Linked DNA regions of Homo sapiens. The protein of the gene in region 3 purifies or fractionates together with the protein of the main gene of each other region. This does not show direct contact. Each region holds a gene or a part of one and is shown on either strand. Other genes may lie near its edges.

Region 1 (7,027 bases), on a different chromosome or scaffold from region 3:
GCCAACATGGCAAAACCCCGTCTCTACTAAAAATACAAAAATTAGCCGGGTGCAGTGGCAGGCGCCTGTAATCCCAGCAACTCGGGAGGCTGAGGCAGGAGAATTGCTTGAACCCAGGAGGCGGAGGTTGCAGTGAGCTGAGATCACGCCACTACACTCTAGCCTAGGCGACAGAGTGAGACTCTGCCTCAAAAAACAAACAAACAAATAACCAGATTTAAAGATTTAAAGCACCCTAGGACTTTTATCACAACTCAATTCCAGTACAATCTCACGTTGATGTCTTTGAAATTCTGAACCATTTCTGCAGCAAAACGCCTAATTCTCCAGAGCCCTGAGGGCATCCGTCAATGAAATCAGCTGATTTATAAACAGAATTCAGTGATTATGAAAACAATGCAGTCATAAAACGCTTAAAAAGCATAGCATTGTTCCAAGGTTTCCTTGTGGACCTGCAAACAGGTACTGTCATCTAGTTCCGAAACAAGCGCATTTTTTCAGCTTTAAAAACAACACGCAAAATACAATAGATCCAGTATGTGCATGGTTCCCTGTTATTGCATATTCTTTCTTCCCTAAGTCAAATCACTAATACCTGTACCTCTGGAACGATGTCCAGTCCTTAAGCTGGTGGATCTCAAAGTTACTTAACGCACATACATGTGCGTGCAAACGCACACATACCTTAGTAGCTGAAGTCAGAGGAAAGGGGAGTACAACTGTGTCCTACCTGCAGGCAGGGACGTTGGTATCACCCCCTCTTCCAGCCTTTGGGGACCTACATCATAAATGTTTCTTTCATCATATATCCTTTTCAGCAAAAAAGTTTTCAGAAGGTGCTCCTAACTCATGTAATTTATTAAATATATAAAATACTCAAGTAACATGCATTTCATGGACAAGAAATATATTTTTTACAAGTATTAGAGATTTTCTTAATGGACATTTTCATAATTTCTTCCTGCATCCCAATAAATCTTGCTGTGCACCTGCCAGAGGGCATGAAACTCACTAAGACCCTTTTGGGAATTAAAATCTGAAACAAGTCATTTCTGTCCCCTGTCCTTCCCCCAAATTTAGAGACTACTGGCTTAAAGGAATTACACTCAGAGTCCCATAAAATTTAACAGAGCATCCCGTGACATGTAATATCAACAAGTATCTCTCCTTGCTCTCATCTGGTCTACAATAATTTCTGTCATGTACTGGACAGGGAAGATTATTCATTCTTATTTTCACGAACTTATGAGCTGAGTGCATCTCAAAGGTTAGGCTTTTTGAAGTATCCTAAGACAGATCCCTGGAAATGGCTGAAGTTGACATAGAACCACTGTGTCTTGAAAATGCAAGCTGAATCTGGTATTTTCTTCATAATCAAATTGGGAATTAAACCAAACCCCCTTCAAAGGTGGGGGACAGAACTGTCCCAAATGAGAACCATTAGTTGGCTGCAACATTCCAGAGCTCAACGTTGAAAACACTGTTCCAATAAGAAAGCATCTTTTCTACCTTCATTTCTAAAGCTTCCCTTTCTCCTGAACCCACCGCCTATCATGCCCCATCTCAATCTCTCTGATCCCATCGGACAAGAACAAACCTAGACAAGAAAAGGAAACAGTACCCGACTTCCTCTGAACAGGTCCTCCAGACTCTCCTGCTACTGTCAGAAGTTGGCAATTGCTGTTTTCAAGTTTATAATTTTGAATTCTTGAGTTTTTATCAACATGGAGCTGGCATTACAGTTGTGTACGATTCAAATGCTTGATAAGATTCTGTTGAAAAAAGAACTGAAGGCAAGGACACAAGTTTATTCTGTTCCCCAAATGAACCAAATGGCAGGGACGTCAATTTCCTATTCAGGGATATCAATTCTCTACGCTTTCGGGAAATACAATCTGAAACTGTGAAGCCACCTGGACTTTTATAGCACCTGGGAATTACCTTTGCACATTGGCACTACCGATTTTTACATGGCAGACTTTGGCGACAGTTCTCCACTCAACTTCATTTCTCATCTTCACATAGATGACAAGGTAACAGTGACAACTAAAGGAGCACAAGCATCCAGGCTGACAATTACCCAATTACCCACAGTGCACCAGAAACTGAAATCACGACTCAGTCCTGCTGAATTTTCCTCCAGTTCTTAAAATTATTGTTTTTTTTTTTGAGACGGAGTCTTGCTCTGTCACCCAGGCTGGAGTGCAGTGGCGCAATCTTGGCTCACTGCAAGCTCCACCTCCATGGTTCACGCCATTCTCCTGTCTCAGCCTCCCAAGGAGCTGGGACTATAGGCGCCCACCACCATGCCTGGCTAATTTTTTGTATTTTTAGTAGAGACGGGGTTTCACCGTGTTAGCTAGAATGGTCTCGATCTCCTGACCTCGTGATCTGCCCCCCTCAGCCTCCCAAAGTGCTGGGGGGCATGAGCCACCACACCTGGCCTCTTAAAATTATTTTATATGGTCTTGCCATATTAAAGTATATGTTGGCCAGGAACAGTAGCTCACAACTGTAATCGCAGCACTTTGGGAGGCCGATGCAGGAAGATTGCTTGAGTCCAGGTGCTCAAGACCAGCCTAGGCAACACAGCAAGACCCAATCTCTAGAAAAAAATTGAAAATTAAAAAAAAAAAAAAAAAGAAAGAAAAAAAAAAAGCTGGACATGCTGACTTGTGCCTGTCGGCCCAGCTACTTGGGAGGCTGAGGCAGAAGGATCACTTGAGCCCAGAAAGCCAAGGCTGCAGTGAGCTATGATCAGGGCAACAGAGCAAGACCCCATCTCTAAAAATACATAAATAAAGTATTTGTTATTATTGATTTAAGGAATAAAATGGCACCATGTACAATAAGCTTCTTTTTGTCCAAATTCCCTTCTATCAGGAAATTCAGACAAGCAAAAATGCTCGCAGCACTGAACAATACTGCACATTCACATGGACTCTAAATCCTAACAACAGGCAGGTCCCTAATTGGAAAGAGTCAAGCCTAAAGGGGACACATGCCCTTCTCTTCTTGCTCCGACATGATGGTGCTGGGGATGCAGTTTCAACAGACCCGAAGGAAGGTTTCAGCGTCTTGGAGAGCTGGCCGGGAAGGTTACCGGGCAGGAGAGAGCCTCACCTCCTCCCTACTCCCATATTCTAGCCTGGGCAGGTGTTCCAGAAAGGAAAGAGCCCTGTGCAGGCTATCTGGGGTCATAATCGGTTCCAGGCTCAAGGGAAACAGGCAGAAAAAACTCTCATGTTTTCTTTAAAGCATTCCGGCTACATCCACCACGATAGGAAAAATGACAAGAATTCAAGGCAGACACCCAGGTCAAGAATAAACACTGTGAGTTTTGCCGTGAGCATTGTTTGTGCTTCTTTCACAGGGTCTCCTGGGGCTGGAGAACTGCCGCACTCCCCGGAATCACTCAGAGGCGCCCAGCAGCACAAAGCGCCTTCTGACTCGCTGTGGGTTTCTGAACTAAAATGCGCAACTAACTTATCAATGTTTACCAAAATATCGCTTATTTTAATCATGGGAAAACTGATACTCTAGGCACCGGACATAAACAACTGTCACTTGATCCCAATGTTTAGTTAACATAAAACCGTCATCCTTAACCAGTCTGAAAAAAACATGGCCTCCCAGACCTTGAAGCAGGGTCCATCTTCCAAACCAAATCTTCACACCTGGGAGGGAGGAAAAGGCTTGAGGCCACTCATCCAGCCCTTTAACTCTACACGGTAGGACATGCACAGGTTCTGTGACTTCACACAACCAGGTAGACCACCTCAGGCAGGACAAAAGTCACCAAAATGCCAGGACAAGGATTATATTAGAAAACATGCCACGTCATGAGATCACAGAAAGCGACATATGGCCCAGAGTAAAACACAGGTTAGCAGCTCCATAGAAACACAGATGTAGGAATTCATTTTTTTATTTCTACAACAAAGGCAAAAACAACTTGATATTTTTAGCCTATTTTATATTTACGTGATTAACCCATTGGGAAAACGGCAAAGGTCCTTAATGAACATGTATCCTGTTTTTAAACTAAAGCCATGACTATAACCTTCTGATACATTTCACATATGAAGTACCTTTTGGTAGGACTGTGCAATAAAGGTGAGGGTAACATCCTCTAAAAGGACATCAGAGGTCGGGCATGGTTGCTCACACCTGTAATTCCAGTAGTTTGGGAGGCCGAGGCGAGTGGATCATCTGAAGTCAGGAGTTCGAGACCAGCCTGACCAACATGGTGAAATGCCATCTCTACTAAAAATACAAAATTAGCCGGGCATGGTGGTGCATGCCTGTAATCCCAGCTACTCGGGAGGCTGAGGCAGGAGAATTGCTTGATCCCGGGAAGCGGAGGTTGCAGTGAGGAGAGATCATGCCACTGCACTCCAACCTGGGAAACACCAATGAAATTCTGTCTCAAAAAAACAAAAACAAAAACACGACATTAGAAAATGTCCCATCTGAAACAATGAGGCATCAAGAACTAACTGGCATAGAACAAAGAGGAAATAAATAGGCCGAGCGTGCTGGCTTACGCCTGTAATCCCAGCACTTTGGGAGGCTAAGCAGGTGGATCACCTGAGGTCAGGAGTTTGAGACCAGCTTGACCAACATGGTGAAACCCATCTCTACTAAAAATACAAAAAAATTAGCCAGGTGTGGTGGCACATGCCTCTAGTCCCAGCTTCTCCGGAGGCTGAGGAGGAGAATCGCTTGAACTTGCGGGCGGAGATCGCGCCACCGCACTCTACCCTGGGCGACATAGTGAGACTCCGTCTCAAAATAAAAGAAAAAAGAGCAAATAACTAAAAGAGTATAATTGGATTGTTTGTAACACAAAGAATAAGTGCTTGAGGGAATGGATACCCCCATTCTCCATGATGTGATTATACACTGCACGACTATATCAAAATATCTAATGCACCCCATAAATATATACACCTACGTATCCAGAAAAATTTTTAAAAAATTTTAAAAAGGAGCAAAGCTTTAGCAGCCTCAACAACACACCTGATGTTTTTCCACTGTGGTTTCTTACATTAAGGAGCAAAGCTGTTTTTTCCTTGCTTGTGATAACATCTACAGTGCAAAATGTGCTGTTCTAAGAAAAGCGGTTGGCCAAAGCACACAAAGGCATGAAGTTCATGTGTCATCAGAGAGAGGAGGCAAAGGTGGTACTGGAAGAGCGGATGGATTCACCTAAGGCATTCCACCATGTGTTACATTCAGATGGGATCCCCAAGACTTCCAGAGCAGAGCAGATGGCTGGGTGCCCCAGATTCGGGGCTGGGGGGGGTGACTGTGGAGGAACTGTGGGAGACAGAGCCATGAACATCTCTGGGCTGAGGAGATTGTTCTCTCTCCTGATGATGATGGTGGTCACACCAATCTATGCATGTGTCAAGACTCATAATGCACCCAAAGAGACAAACTTACCATATGGTAATTTAAATAATAAAATTATATAGATACAGCCCTAAAATGTAAGAGGGAAAAGATAAGGAAAAAAACAAAGCAAACTACTAGACACCATCGTGACTGATGGTGATACCTTTCCAGACCCAATTCCCAACTTCAGAAAACAGGAAACTATAAGCATGTTAGGCTAGCCGGGCGCGATGGCTCATGCCCATAAGCCCAGCACTTTGGGAGGCCGAGGCGGGAGGGTCGCCTGAGGTCAGAAGTTCGAGCCCAGCCTGGCCAACATGGTGAAACCCCACCTCTACTAAAAATACAAAAATCAGCCGGGTGTGGTGGAGCATGCCTGTAATCCCAGCTACTCAGGAGGCCGAGGCAGGAGAATCGCTTGAACCCGGGAGGCAGAGTGAGCCGAGATCGCACCACTGCACTCCAGCCTGGGCTGTGAGAGAGACTTCGTCTCAGAAAAAACAAACAAACAAACAAAAAAGGCATGTTAGGCTCCAAGCATTATAATAATTCTATGTCGGTCGACTGAGTAAAGTGGCTCACACCTGTAATCTCAACACTTGGGGAGGTCAAGGAGGAAGGATCACTGGAGCCCAGGAGTTTGAGAGCAGCCTGGGCAACACAGTGAGAGCCTGTGTCTACTAAAAATAAAAATAAAAAAATTGCCAGGTATGGTAGTGCGCATTTGGTACTCCCAGCTACTTAGGAGGCTGAGGCAGGAGAATTGCTTAAGCCCAGAAGGTTGAGGCTGCAGCTAGCTATAATAATTGCACTGTCTCAAAATAAACAAATAAATAAAAACTAAATGAGAAATATAATAACTCTATCTCCTTTAATACAAGGAGCCTGGGAAATCTCTCTCTCCCTCTACCCGACCCCTATATATATAATTACATATATATATATATACTCCTACCCACCTCCTCTCTCAATGAGAAAATTAATGTTAGAGAAGTTCACTGATTTGCCCAAAGCTCCAGTCAGTGCACGGCAAGCTAGCTGCAAACCAGGTTTCCCTCATAGCTGTCCCCAGCGCCCAAGTTCAGCGGGAGCCCAGATTCCCCATGACCAGGCAGGGCTTGGGGCACCTCTGGGGCTCACTTGGACGTGGGGGCCAAGGTCCCGCAGCAGGACCACACTCTGGGAGCCCTTTTCCTACTGACACTTGGAAGAGGGCCTCCACGAGGAAAATGCAGGTCCACACCCAGCTGGCTCAACCTGTTTGCTAATTTAACAGTTGCAGGAAGGGAAATGTCTCCAGACATTGGCAAATGCTCCCTTCAAAAGTGGGGGACAAAACTGTCCCAAATGAGAACCATTAGTTGGCTGCAACATTCCAGAGCTCAACGTTGAAAATACTGTTCCAATAAGCAAGCATCTTTTCTACCTTCATTTCTAAAGCTTCCCTTTCTCCTGAACCCGCCGCCTATCATGCCCCATCTCAAATCTCTCTGATCCCATCGGACAAGAACAAACCTAGACAAGAAAAGGAAGCAGTACCCGACTTCCTCTGAAAACTCAACATATTCTCTCTTCCATCTTAACTTTAAATTTGTTCCAATTCCATTTGTAACGGTTTCCAATTCAC
Region 2 (7,027 bases), on a different chromosome or scaffold from region 3:
GCAAAAGACTGCAGTCAATACAGACAAAAGAAGTTTAAAAAAGTGACCAAACAGCACTTTAAAAGTATCAATGTTTACATTAATGCAATTTTCAAACAGTATCTACCTAAGTTCTCTGTCTTAGAGCTGAGCTGATTTTTCATTTAAATACAGTCATCCCTTAGTATGCATGGGAAATTGGTTCCAGGACTAACTGAGTATACAAAAATCTGCAGATACTCAAGTCCCTTATGCAAATGGCACTGCATTTGTATATAACCTATATACATCTTCCCCTGTACTTTAAATAACTTCTGGAGGACTTGAATACCTGTAACAATGTAATGCTACATAAACAGTTGTTATACTGTATTGTTTAGAGAATGAAAGTCTGTACATGTTTAATACAGATGCAACCTTCTATTTTTTTCCCAAATATTTCTGACCTATGGTTGATTGAATCCACGTATGCGGAACCCACAGATACGGAGAGGTGACTGTATACAGCAAAAGTATCATAAGTACTATTTCACCAGCAGTTCCTGATTCTACAAAGCCGAATTCTTGTTTCATTAGGCCAATTTGTAGTCTACTCATCGGTCTATCCAAATTGAATCAGAACACTGATATCCTTTGAAATTTAATAATTTTAAAAGGTAGGTTTGAGAACTTCCATTACATTGTAATGTAGTAGGTTAACAACAGAAACCAGAAATCACCCCACCGTCTAATTATTAAATATTGCAATCCATTACTTGAAATGATTTACAGCATTCCATCGGCAACTAACAATGTACAATTAAGATGATACACACATCCCTAACTCAACAATTCTGTATCTAGGAATGGATCCTATGTAGGTGGACTAAGCCATGCTTACAGTTCTAGAACAATGAGCCTGGCACACTGCAGACACTAAATAGTTGCTGAATGGTGTTTGCGGCAGCACTGAATGAAAACGACCCTTTAATATGGGGACTGGTTAAAGAACTCAAACTTGTTCAATGGAATATACTCTACATGCAGCCAAGAAAGGGAGGCAGATCATTACATAATGACATGGAAAGATCTTCAAGCCATTATTAAGGGTAAAAAGCAAAGTGTAACAAAAAAATTTATGGTAGGAAGAGATATACACAGGAATAACAAGCCCAGTCTAGGCCAGTGGTTGCCCTCAGGGAGACATTTTTGGTTGTGACAACCAAAGCTTTGTGGAATCAGGAACTGCTGGTGAAATAGTACTCACCATACTTTTACTCTATACAGTCACCTCTCCGTATCGGTGGGTTCCACATATGTGGATTCTTTGGTTGAGGCAAAGAGGGGGTACTACTGGTATCTAATGGACAGAGGCCACAGATGCTGTCAAACATTCTACAATCTGCCCTAAAGTGTCAACTGTGAGGAGGCTGAGAAAATCAGGTCTAGCCGCTTCAAATGTATACATTATCCCTGGAAGGATACCAAAGAGATTGCTTCTTGGAAGGAAGAATGACGACGAAGAGTCAGGTTGAAAGAATGACTTCCTTTTAGTTAAATACCCTTTTGTATTATTTGAATTTTTTAAAAATCCTGAGTATATTTTACATTTTAAATAAAAACCCCTAAATGAAATAATACTGTATATCATGGGATAAATTCATTCTGAAAATGCAGCTTCAGTTTTTTACTGAATAATTAACTGGTTTTACTTACATGCTCAGGCTTATCTTTAAGAAGTTGTTTTATCTTGTTTACTGCTGAAGGTGTCTGAAAAAAGAAAATGATGTTTTTAGCTACAAAACTTGTTATTCAAAGCCTCATATTTATCAGTCTTCGTAAGTCTGTCTTTAGCAAATTCATGTGACAAATTTATGTTCCATTCTTGCCAGGGTACCTTATGGACTTTATATAGAAACACATAAACTATACCTAATTCAAAATATCCTCTTTATTTAAAAAAAAAATCTGCTAGCAACATCCTTTTAATCTTGCTCCTCAGTCCAGGTTGGTTCCCTGTCCTTCTCTCTATGGTGCTATTCACTCACATTACAAATGCTATTTTTCTGGGCAGCATCTATTTTGTGCACCAACTCTATGCCCAGGAACCAGCATGTTGCCTACGACAAAGAGCCAATGAAGGAATCAAGTATCTCACTGGGAAGGCCAACCTTCAGGTGTTTTTCCTGTTGATTATTAATCCTACTGCTTTTTTTTTTCTTACTCACAATCCATTTCTAATCCATCAAAATGCATAGCTTGAGGAAACAGTGTTACCAGCATAAAATAACCCAGGGTGTGCTTCTTGCACCAGTCCCACCAAATGCTCACATAGATTTTTTTCAACGTGGATTAAACCAACATCTCAGGAGATCTAGATGAACAAAACTAAGCTAGTCAATGACAGAAATAAGAACAAGGAGGAGCTGTTTCCCAGAGAAATGCTGTTTTAACATAGCTCAGCGGGCCTCAAAATGAGAAAAACATCACAGTTTGTGTGAAATAGGTCGGTGTTGCCAACCCCACTTCTTTGGGAAGGAGACTGTTCCCCGACATTCCTGGCCCACTTCCTAGCTGTGCCTCCAGGGCAGTCACCCTAAGTGGCTTCTCTGACTTCTATTCCCTTACTGGTGAAACAGGGATAACAGTTCCTCCTCCTCCTGATTCTTGTGAGGATTAAATATTTAAACTCATGGAAAGCATTCAGGACAGTGCCAGGCACAAAAATACCAAGTATTATTATGATTATGAGAGTACATCATAATGAAGACATTATGTGCGTCCTTCCTACTTTATCAGCTCCTCTAGCTGGCAGTGCTCTGCAGGCCCTCCAGTCCCTTGTACTGACATTTTACTGTACAGTAAAGTCTTTGAGACTGCTTGTGAAGTCTCAAAGTCTGGATATTACGACCTAAGACTTGGTAGTAAACTGAGGCCAGGACTGACACCTGGAAGAGCCAGCCCAATGGATGGCCCTAGAGTGTGCTCTCCTGCCCTGTCGGGGTTGGGGCTCAGCTAGATGAGCATGCTTAAACACAGTACAGACCCAGTTTAGAAGGGCATGAAAGCAATTTGGAATGTGAAGACCAACATGTCTTAAACATTTTAAATAGAAAACAATGCACTGCACTTAAAAACGTGAATGTTGTTTAGTAAAACTTTTAATTCAGTTATTAATATATAGTATCTGTGTATATACATTTCTTATTACATGTCACTGTAAAAAAACAAACCACTACCAGTAGGTGGGCCTCTAAAGGCCCATGGTTTCCCATGGTTCTGTCAGAAAAGGAGGCATGCAGTCCTCCAACGCAGGAAGTAGCACACAGGGTGGAAGGAGAAAACAGGGAAGAGCAGGATTATGGTTTTGTTTTTGTTTTTTGAGTCACAGAATACCAACTTTAAATAGTTACAGAAATAGTTATTATTTTTTAAAGTGCTCATTACCCTTCTAAAGCAGTGGTCCCAAATGTTTTTGGCATCAAGGACTGGTTTCGTGGAAGACAATTTTTCCACGGATAAGGGGAATGGTTTCTGAATGATTCAAATGCATTACATTTATTGTGCACTTTATTTCTATTATTACATTGTAATATATAATGAAATAATTATATAACTCATCAAAATATACAATCAGTGGGAGCCCTGAGCTTGTTTTTCTGCAACTAGATGGCCCCATCTAGGGGTGATGAGAGACAGTGACAGATCATCAGGCATCATTCTCATAAGGAGTGCACAAACTAGCCCCTCACACCTGCAGTTCAGACTAGGGTTTGTGCTCCTATGAGAATCTAATGCCCCTGATGATCTGACAGGAGGTGGAGCTCGCTTAGGTGGTAATGCTTGGCTTGCCTGCTGCTCTCACCTCCTGCTGTGAGGCCCTGTTCCTAACAGGCCATGGACCAGTACCAGTCTGTAGCGCAGGGACTGGGGACCCCTGTTCTAAGTGATTGTCAATAAAAGCTAGCTTTCTTATCAACCACATGTAAATTTTCACCATATTTTCCTATGTGCATGCTGAAGAAATTAATCACTTACTGTCAAATAAAAATAGCTTTCTGTAAGTTTATTTTAAAAAGGCATAGCCTGGCTGGGCCTGGTGCCTCATGCCTATATTCCCAACACTTTGGGAGGCCGAGGTGGAAGTATCACTTGAGGTCAGCCAAGGTGGAAGGATCACTTGAAGTCAGGAGTTTGAGACCAGCCTGGCCAACATGGTGAAACCCCGTCTCTATTAAAAATACAAACATTAGCTGAGGATGATGGCATGCGCCTGTAATCCCAGCTACTCCGGAGGCTGACGCATGAGAATCGCTTGAACCCAGGAGGCGGAGGCTGCAGTAAGCCGAGATCATGCCACTGCACTCCAGCCTGGGAAACAGAGTGAGACTCTGTCTCAAAAAAAAAAAAAAAAAAAAAAAAAAGGCATAGCCATGGAAAATATCCGCGGGAACTAAAATCTGAAACGTGGTCTTGGTTTAATCTGAGTGGATCAAAGGCACAGATGGGCACACCACTGCATGATCTAAACAAAACAAATGTGTCTGTCACACTACTCCGTTTACCAGCCCCAAATATATAATTTTTTTTATCTCCAAGTGGTTTTCTAAATTATCTAATTTGGTTTTACAAAGTCATCTATTTTCTTATTTTCTCAACTTTTAGCAGGAAACACTTAAATACAGTAAATGAAAGCAATTCGTGGGGATTGGTCTACTTATCACCAAGTTGCTGATGTTCACATCTCATACTGAAGGACTCTTTAAGGGAAAAGTAACATTCAACAGGAACCTGTGTGCCTGGGAAGCTGCTGTTACAGGAACTAAAATATGTCTTAATTTTCCTGTGCCAGGCCAAAACCAAACCTACTCCACTGGGAGGGTGTTACTAATGATGGACAACCCAGGTCAGTACTCAACCAAGGGAAAAGGTTCTTAGAACTTTCAAAGTGACTGATCTGATTTTCAGAACAAGGGAGAGTGGTTAAAAGGGAAGAGTTGGGACTTAAAAAAAATCGAGCTATAAGAGGTACTTTTTGTGTCTCAGTACCAGGGAGAGGCTAAGAATCCTACCCTGCTTTAAGTCTACATACTCTGGCAACTTTGTGCTTAGGTAAAATTCATGTGAGAAACAGCATAAAATCTTCAACTACACAGCATGCTGCAGGGCCTAGCAGCCTGCCAGTACCAGTGCACTTCCCAGAACAACTAAGAAACATGTAATTCTCAAGAAATTTATGTACTATTAATGAATATAGCTTACCTGAGATTTGGCCCATGTTTTAAAATTTAAGAGCTTCCTGAAGCCCACTAAAATATGATGGTTTTTACTCACATGCAAATCACAGGAATATGACTTTTAAAGTGAGAGGTTATCTTTGAGGTAAGGTATTTTGGCCTAATTGAAAAATAAATATATTTCCAAGATGTTTCCGCTGTTAAAATTAAGGGAAAAGGCATTGTAGATGAATGTTTTATCACTACTTCATAGCAACACGCTTTCTAATCCTTGTAGGAGAAACTTTTCATTCTCAATCCTGTATTTCTTTAAGTAACTCCCCAGGCAATTTTCATTTTTTGCTGTTTAAGAAAATTAAATTAAATTCAAAGCTAAAGTTAACTCTGTGATTATGCATACTAAACATGTGCCAACAACTACAACTTAATTTCTCTACAAACATGGCATTTTAATGTCAACATATCAATTTTCTGGGGGAACAAAAGATGGTAAATAAATAGAGCCAGTGAACAAGTACAGTGTATTTTATTAAAATCATTCTTTAACAGCCATGGCTGGCATTAGAGTGTCAAAATAAGAAAAGACAAAAGCATTCTCTTTTGTCTTTTCTTATTTGTGTATATGTGTATATACACATCCAAAATACATATAATATACAAATATATATTTGTAGGCCAGGTGTGGTGGCTCATGCCTGTAATGCCAGCACTTTGGGAGGCCAAGGTGGGAGGACGGCTTGAGGCCAGGAGTTTGAGACCAGCCTGTGCAACAGAGCAAGACCCTGTCTCTACAATAAATTAAAAAAAAAAAATTAGCAGTCAAGGTGACATGTGCCTGTAGTCCCAGTTACTTGGGAGGCTGAGGTGAAAGGATTGCTTGAGCCCAGGAGTTTGAAGCTGCAGTAAGCCATGATCATGCCACTGCATATGAGCCTGGGTGACAGAGGAAGATCCTGTCTCTAAAAAGAAAAAGGTTTGTAATCATGGCATATATACATAATTTTGCAGCCTCCATTGAAACAATTTAACAAATTATTTTTTCATTTGATACATGGTAATAAACATATATTCACCATTTACTGAGCACCTTCTAAGTGTTTAATGGTTTAAACGTAACATCTTTTTATTCCTGCCATTGTGATTTAGGTATTAAAGATTAAATAATTTGCACAGCATAAGTCAAAGAATGAAGATTTATAACGCTGAAACTTAAAAAAAACCATAATTTACAATGACTACATCCTTCACCAACAGGATCTACTCTCACGTACTTAACCGTTCTTTCACTGTTAGACTGCTAGGCTACTTCCAGTGCTTCTTGTGTAGTATTTCCTAAACTGCCTTCGTATAGAAATCTTAGTGCTTGGTCACTGTTCAAAAGGACTTCTGGTTCTAGTCCAATGAACTAACACACAGTTCCTTACTGAGCATTAAGCATTTCCTAGCTTCTCAACTGGACTCCAATAGAAAGTTAAGCCCTAAGGCACCTTCCGTACACAATGAATTCATCAAGAATGATAGTGGCTGTGCACCATCATTCTCTCATAGAACTTGGTTGAGTTTTAATGCACAGCTGTGATCCACCCCAGTCCTACAAATTAGAGTTGCTCTGACTTGTACAATGATGGAAATAAATCTGTCTGCAAGCAGGGCACTATTTACTCTTCAGATTCTTTAATCACATCTGGCTCCTGCAAGTTCAATTCCACTTGTCAATTTCTAGATATGTAGGGAAATAGGGAAGATGTAGATAATCTGATAATGACAGCATTGAACTGTGTTATATTATCAGTTACTTTTCCTAGCCTTTTGTTGACATCTGGTAGACTCCA
Region 3 (7,027 bases):
ACCTAGGCAACAAAGTAAGATTACCCTATTTCCATAAAAAAAAAAAAAGTAGGCAAAAGAAAAACTGGATGCAGTGGCACATACCTGTAGTCTCAGTTACTGGGGAGGCTGAGACAGGATTGCTTGAGTCCAGAAGTTCAAGTCCAGCCTGGGCAACATAGCAAGAACCTGTCTCTAAAAAGCAATAAAAATAAACCCCAAACCAGACACTCCACTAAACAAACATATGAAAAAAATGGTCAACATCATAAATCGTTAGGAAATTACAAATTAAAATGAGATACCACTATAAATTTGTTAGAATGGCCCAAATCTTAAAACTTTCACAATGCTAAATGTTGGTGAGGATGTGGGGCAAAAGGAACTCTCATTCATTGGGGGTGGGAATACAAAATGGTGAAGCCACCTGAGAAGACAACTTGGCAGTTTCTTGCAAAGCTAAACACAAGTAAATCCCTTGGTATTTACTCAAGCAAGTTGAAACTTTATGTCCACACCCAAACCTGCACATGAATGTTTACAGCAGCTTTCTTCATAATTACCAAAACTTGGGAGCAACCAAGATGTCCTTCAATAGGTAAATGGATAAGCAAACAATGGTACATCCACAGAGTGTAATACTATTCAGCAATAAAAAGAAATGGGCTATTAACCACGGAAAGACATGGAGGAGCCTTAAATACATATTGCTAAGTGAGAGAAATCAGTTTGAAAGGTTACATACTATATGATTCCAACTATATGACATTCTGAAAAAGGCAACAATAAAAAGACCAGTGGTTGGGCCGGGTGCGGTGGCTCACGCCTGTAATCCCAACACTTTGGGAGACCGAGACGGGCGGATCACCTGAGGCTGGGGGTTTGAGACCAGCCTGACCAACCTGGAGAAACCCTGTCTCTACTAAAAATACAAAATTAGCTGGGCGTAGTGGCACATGCCCGTAATCCCAGCTACTCGGGAGGCTGAGGCAGGAGAATCGCTTGAACCCGGGAGGTGGAGGCTGCCGTGAGCCAAGATCGTGCCACTGCATTCCAGCCTGGGCAACAACAGCGAAAGTCTGTCTCAAAAAAAAAAAAAAAGATCAGTGGTTGTCTGTTGCGGGAAGTCAGGGACCCCAAACAGAGGGACCAGCTGAAGCCATGGCAGAAGAACATAAATTGTGAAGGTTTCATGGACACTTATCACTTCCCCAATCAATACTCTTGTGATTTCCTATGCCTGTCTTTACTTTAATCTCTTAATTCCGTCATCTTCGTAAACTGAGGAGGATGTATGTTGCCTCAGGACCCTGTGATGATTGCATTAACTGCACAAATTGTTTGTAGAGCATGTGTGTTTGAACAATATGAAATCTGGGCACCTTGAAAAAAGAACAGGATAACAGCAATGTTCAGGGAACAAGAGAGATAACCTTTAAACTCTGATTGCCGGTGAGCCAGGTGGAACAGAGCCATATTTCTCTTCTTTCAAAAGCAAACAGGAGAAATATCGCTGAATTCTTTTTCTCAGCAAGGAACATCCCTGAGAAAGAGAATGCATCCCTGAAGGGAGGCCTCTAAAATGGCTGCTTTGGGGGCAGATGTCTTTTATGGTCACAGCTGTAGGATGAAATAAGCCCCGGTCTCCCGTAGTGCTCCCAGGCTTATTAGGACGAGGAAATTCCCACCTAATAAATTTTGGTCAGACCAGTTGTCTGCTCTCAAATCCTGTTTCCTGATAAGATGTTATCAATGACAATGCGTGCCTGAAACTTCATTAGCAATTTTAATTTCACCCCGGTCCTGTGGTCCTGTGATCTCGCCCTGCCTCCATTTACCTTGTGATATCTTATTACCTTGTGAAGCATGTGATCTATGTGACCCACCCCCTATTCGTACACTCCCTCCCCTTTTGAAAATCACTAATAAAAACTTGCTGGTTTTATGGCTCAGGGGGCATCACGGAACCTGCTGACATGTGATGTCTCCCCCAGACACCCAGCTTTAAAATTTCTCTCTTTTGTACTCTGTCCCTTTATTTCTCAGGCCGGCCGACACTTAGGGAAAATAGAAAAGAGCCTACGTGAAATATCGGGGGTGAATTTCACCTGATAGTTGTCAGGGGTTTGGGGTGAGGGAGGGATAAACAGATGGTGGGGCACAGGGGATTTTTAGGTTAGTAAAACTGTTATTATAATGGTGGACACGACTGGCCAGGCACGCTGGCTCATGCCTGTAATCCCAGCACTTTGGGAGGTTGGGGCAGGCAGATCACCTGAGGTTGGGAGTTCGAGACCAGCCTGGCCAACATGGTGAAACCCCGTCTCTACTAAAAATACAAAAATCAGCCAGGCATGGTGGCACACGCCTGCAGTCCCAGCTACTTGGGAGGCTGAGGCATGAGAATCACTTGAACCCAGGAGGCGGAGGTTGCTGTGAGCCGAGATCGTGCCACTGCATTCCAGCCTGGGCAACAGAACAAGACTCTGCCTCAAAAAATAAAAAATAATGGTGGACGGCCAGGCGCGGTGGCTCACGCCTGTAATCCCAGCACTTTGGGAAGCCGAGGCGGGCGGATCACGAGGTCAGGAGATCGAGACCATGGTGAAACCCGGTCTCTACTAAAAATATGAAAAATTAGCCGGGCACAGTGGCAGGCACCTGTAGTCCCAGCTACTCGGGAGGCTGAGGCAGGAGAATGGTGTGAATCTGGGAGACAGAGCTTGCGGTGAGCCGAGATCCACGCCACTGCACTCCAGCCTGGGCAACAGAGTGAGACTCCATCTCAAAAAAATAAATAAATAAAAATAATAATAATAATGGTGGACACGACATAATTGTCAAAAACCATAGAACTGTACAACACAAAAAATGAGCTCTAATGTAAACTATGGACTTTAGTTAATAATCGCATCAATATTGGTTCATAAATTGTAATATATCACAATAATGCAAGATATTAAAATTAAGGGAAACGGGGTGGGTGGGGAGAGGTGCAAGGAAGGTAAGCGTATATGAGAACTCTCTGTACTTTATGCCCAATTTCTCTGTAAACCTAAAACTGCTCTAAAAAATAAAGTCTATTAATTTTTTTAAAAAAGGAATGAAGTATTAATACATGCTAAAACATGAATGAATAATGAAAATACTATGCTAAGTCAAAGAAGCCAGACAGAAAAGGCTACATATTATATGATTCCAATGATATGAAATACCCAGAAGAGGCAAATCCACAGAGACAGAAAGCAGTTTACTGGTTGCCAGGAGCCAGGGGTAGTGGGAAATGAGGTGTGACTGCCTAATGGGTTGATGAAAATGTTCTGGAACTATATATAGGTAGCAATGATGCTTGCACAACATTGTAAATGTACAAAATGACCCTGAATTGTATATTTTTTAAATGGGGCTACGTGTGGTGGCTCATGCCTGTAATTTCAGCACTTTGGGAGGCGGAGGCAGGTGGATCACTTGAAGTCAGGAGTTCAAGACCAGCCTGGCCAACATGGTGAAACCCTGTCTCTACTAAAAACACAAAAATTAGCAGGGTATGGTGGGACGTGCCTGCAGTCCCACCTACTCAGGATGCTGAGGCAGGAGAATCACTTGAACCTGGGATAGAGGTTGCAGTGAGCTGAGGTCGGGCCACTGCACTGCAGCCTGGGCAATAGGGCAAGATTCTTATCTCAAAATAAATAAATAAATACTAAAACGGTGAACTTTATAGTATGTGAATTATATCTTTTTAAAATGCACCCATCTCTACAAAAAAAGAAAAAATTAGCTGGGCATGGTGGTGCACACCTGTAGTCCCAGCTACTCAGTAGGCAGAGTCAGGAGGATTGCTTGAGCCCAGGAGGTCGGGACTGCAGTGAGCCATGATCATGCCACTGCACTCCAGCTTGGGCAACAGAATAAGACCATGTTTTTTTTAAAAAAAAATAAATAAATAAAATAAATAAATAAATAAAATTTTCCTGACTTTGAGGGCAGTGTATTGGTAATTCTGTGGTATGTTATGATCTAACACCCTGAGAGTCTGTTAACATGGGACAAAAGCTAAGGACAATTATGGTTTCCATCAATGACCCACAGCATTTCTCATGCCTTTCACTGCAGTCTATTTTGAAGAGCAGACATTTTAACATTTTAAGAAGGAATGTGAATTATTAAAATGATAAACTGCCACAAAGACAAACATTCTTTAATGATTCACATGAATGCATGTCTTAAGAGGTTATGCATTTCGTTTCAGTGTTTATTTATTTATTTATTATTTTTTTTTGAGACGGAGTCTCGCTCTGTCACCCAGGCTGGAGTGCAATGGCACCATCTTGGCACACTGCAAGCTCTGCCTCCCAGGTTCACGCCATTCTCCTGTCTCAGCCTCCCAAGTAGCTAGGACTACAGGCGCCCACCACCATGCCCAGCTAATTTTTTTGTATTTTTAGTAGAGACAGGGTTTCATCATGTTAGCCAGGGTTGTCTCGATCTCCTGACCTCGTGATTCGCCCTCCTCAGCCTCCCAAAGTGCTGGGATTACAGGCGTAAGCCACCGCGCCTGGCCGTTTCAGTGTTTATAAAGAGTGAAGACAAATCAGAGAACAAATCAAACACTGCACAGCATAGATGCCAAGAATAAAAGAATGATCTTCCAATTTTAATATATGGGTTACATAACCCCAGTGGGCAAAAATTTGCTATTTGAAAATAACAAATCAAGTAGTCTCTCTAATGAAAACCATTTACAGCTCATTTGGAAATTGAATTAACAACCTTTAACAAAGCTTATTTATAATGACAATGAATGTTTCTAATAAATAAAACTTTTTCTTTTTCTTTTTTTTTTTGAGATGGAGTTTCGCTCTCTTTGCCCAGGCTGGAGTGCAATGGTGTGATCTTGGCTTACTGCAACCTCCGCCTTCAGGGTTCAAGCGATTCTCCTGCCTCAGCCTCCCAAGTAGCTGGGATTACAGGCATGTGCCACCCCGCCCAGCTAATTTTTATATTTTTAGTAGAGATGGGGTTTCAACATGCTGGCCAGGCTGGTCTCAAACTCCCAACCTCAGGTGATCCACCCCCCTCGGCTTCCCAAAGTGCTGGGATTACAGGCGTGAGCCACTACACCTGGCCATAAAACTTTTTTAAAAAGACCTCAGGAGTCAACTTGAAAGATCACCTATTAACTAAAGTTAGGATAAACTGAACATCAATTATGATAAGAACTATAATGGATTAAAACTTACATTGAAATATATTGCTATGGTTTGAACGTCCCCTCCAAAACTCATGATGAAATGTATTAATTTATTCAGAGATAGGGCCTTGCTCTGTCAACTAGGCTGGAGGGCAGTAGCACTATCATAGTGCACTGCAGCCTAAAACTCCTGGGGTCAGAGGATCCTTCCACTTCAGCCTCCTGAGTAGCTGGGACTACAGGTACACACCACCAACACCCAGTTAATTTTTAAATTTTTTGTAGAGACAGGATCTTGCTGTGTTGCCCAGGCTGGTCTCAAATACCTGGCCTCATCCTCCTCCCTGGCCTTCCAAAGTGTGTAAGCCGCCATGCCCAGCTTTCATGTTGAAACGTAATTGCCAATGTAACAGCACTGCGAGGTGGGGCCTCTAAGAGGTGATTAGGTCAACGGTGGCTTCATGCTGTTATCATGGAGTTAGTTATCACGGGAGTTAGCTATCCTAATAAAGGAATTAGTTCAGTCTTCTCTCTCTCTCTCTCTCTCTCTCTCTCTCTCTCTCTCTCTCTCTTTCTCTCTCACATCTCACACATGCACCTTCTGCCCTTCCACCATGGAATGACCCTCACCAGATGTTGGCACCATGCTCTTGGACTTCTCAGCCTCCAGAACCATGAGCCAAATCAACTTCTGTTCTTTATAAATTACCTAGTCTATGGTATTCTGTTATGACAAGAGAAAAGGGACTAAGACATTTATTTATTTATTTATTTATTTAGACTGAGTCTCAGTCTTTCGTCCAGGCTGAAGTGCAGTGGTGCGATCTCAGTTCACTGCAACCTCTGCTTCCCAGGCTCAAGTGATTCTCCTGCCTCAGCCTCCTGAGTAGCTGGGATTATAGGCACCTGCCACCATGCCGGGCTAATTTTTTTTGTATTTTTAGTACAGATGAGGTTTCACCATGTTGGACAGACTGGTCTTGAACTCCTGACCTCAGGTGATCCATCCTCCTTGGCCTCCCAAAATGCTGGGATTACAGGCGTGAACGACCATGCCCAGCCCTAAGACATATATTTAAATCGATGAGTTTATAATGATACTGAGAAAGCAAAACAGTCCTCACTGGTCACCTTTGGAGAATGCTAAGAAAATAACTCATCATTCTGAAAGCTGGCATATAAGGTGAAAACAAATCAAGCTTTTATGCTGCCTTTCCTATACAAACTGTACCTCAGGATAAGCAAACAGTTGATGTGAGGAAATTTCTCTTTATAGAAGTATTACAGTTAATGAAGAAAAATGAAAGAAATAGACAATTACCATTTTGCAATCCCTAATGAATTAACTTAGGTAATCATATTCAGTGGCTGATATCACGAAAAGAAAGAACACTAGGCACCATATACTTCCTAACATAAACATACACCATTACCTATGAAATCGTCTTGTGAAAAAAAAAAAATCCAACCTGAATCTGATTAAGCCTCATCTAACTACCAATTCATAGGAAGTACAGGGAACACGGGAAAATGTTTAACATCTTAGGAATGCAATGAGCAAAGTTCAGGTTATAGTAAACTCTTTCAAAGCCAGTTTCTTCAAAAACAATTGAAAATGCGAGGGAAAAAAAATGGGGAGCCTACAGATCAAATAAGACTTAAGACATACATCAACCAATTGCAATATATGGACCATATACGGATTCTTATTTTATTTTATTTTTTAGATGGAGACTTGCTCTGCCACCCAAGCTGGAGTGCAGTGACGCGATCTCAGCTCACTACAACCTCCGTCTCCCGGGTTCAAGCGATTCTCCTGCCTCAGCCTCCCAAGTAGTTGGGATTACAGGTGTG

The links.
Region 1: the proteins of LRRC36 (region 3) and TBL1X purify together in Homo sapiens (affinity purification with mass spectrometry; 2 studies listed by BioGRID and IntAct, with this or other methods). This does not show direct contact.
Region 2: the proteins of LRRC36 (region 3) and ISCA1 purify together in Homo sapiens (affinity purification with mass spectrometry; 2 studies listed by BioGRID and IntAct, with this or other methods). This does not show direct contact.

Annotation. Positions count from the first base shown.
Region 1 is NC_000023.11:9,468,055-9,475,081, reverse strand, and holds part of TBL1X (F-box-like/WD repeat-containing protein TBL1X), read right to left. Parts: intron 1-7,027. UniProt on the Homo sapiens protein: F-box-like protein involved in the recruitment of the ubiquitin/19S proteasome complex to nuclear receptor-regulated transcription units. Plays an essential role in transcription activation mediated by nuclear receptors.
Region 2 is NC_000009.12:86,272,515-86,279,541, forward strand, and holds part of ISCA1 (iron-sulfur cluster assembly 1 homolog, mitochondrial precursor), read right to left. Parts: exon of another isoform or gene 5,703-7,027; intron 1,729-5,702; coding exon 1,675-1,728; intron 1-1,674. UniProt on the Homo sapiens protein: Involved in the maturation of mitochondrial 4Fe-4S proteins functioning late in the iron-sulfur cluster assembly pathway. Probably involved in the binding of an intermediate of Fe/S cluster assembly.
Region 3 is NC_000016.10:67,329,788-67,336,814, reverse strand, and holds part of LRRC36 (leucine-rich repeat-containing protein 36), read right to left. Parts: intron 1-7,027.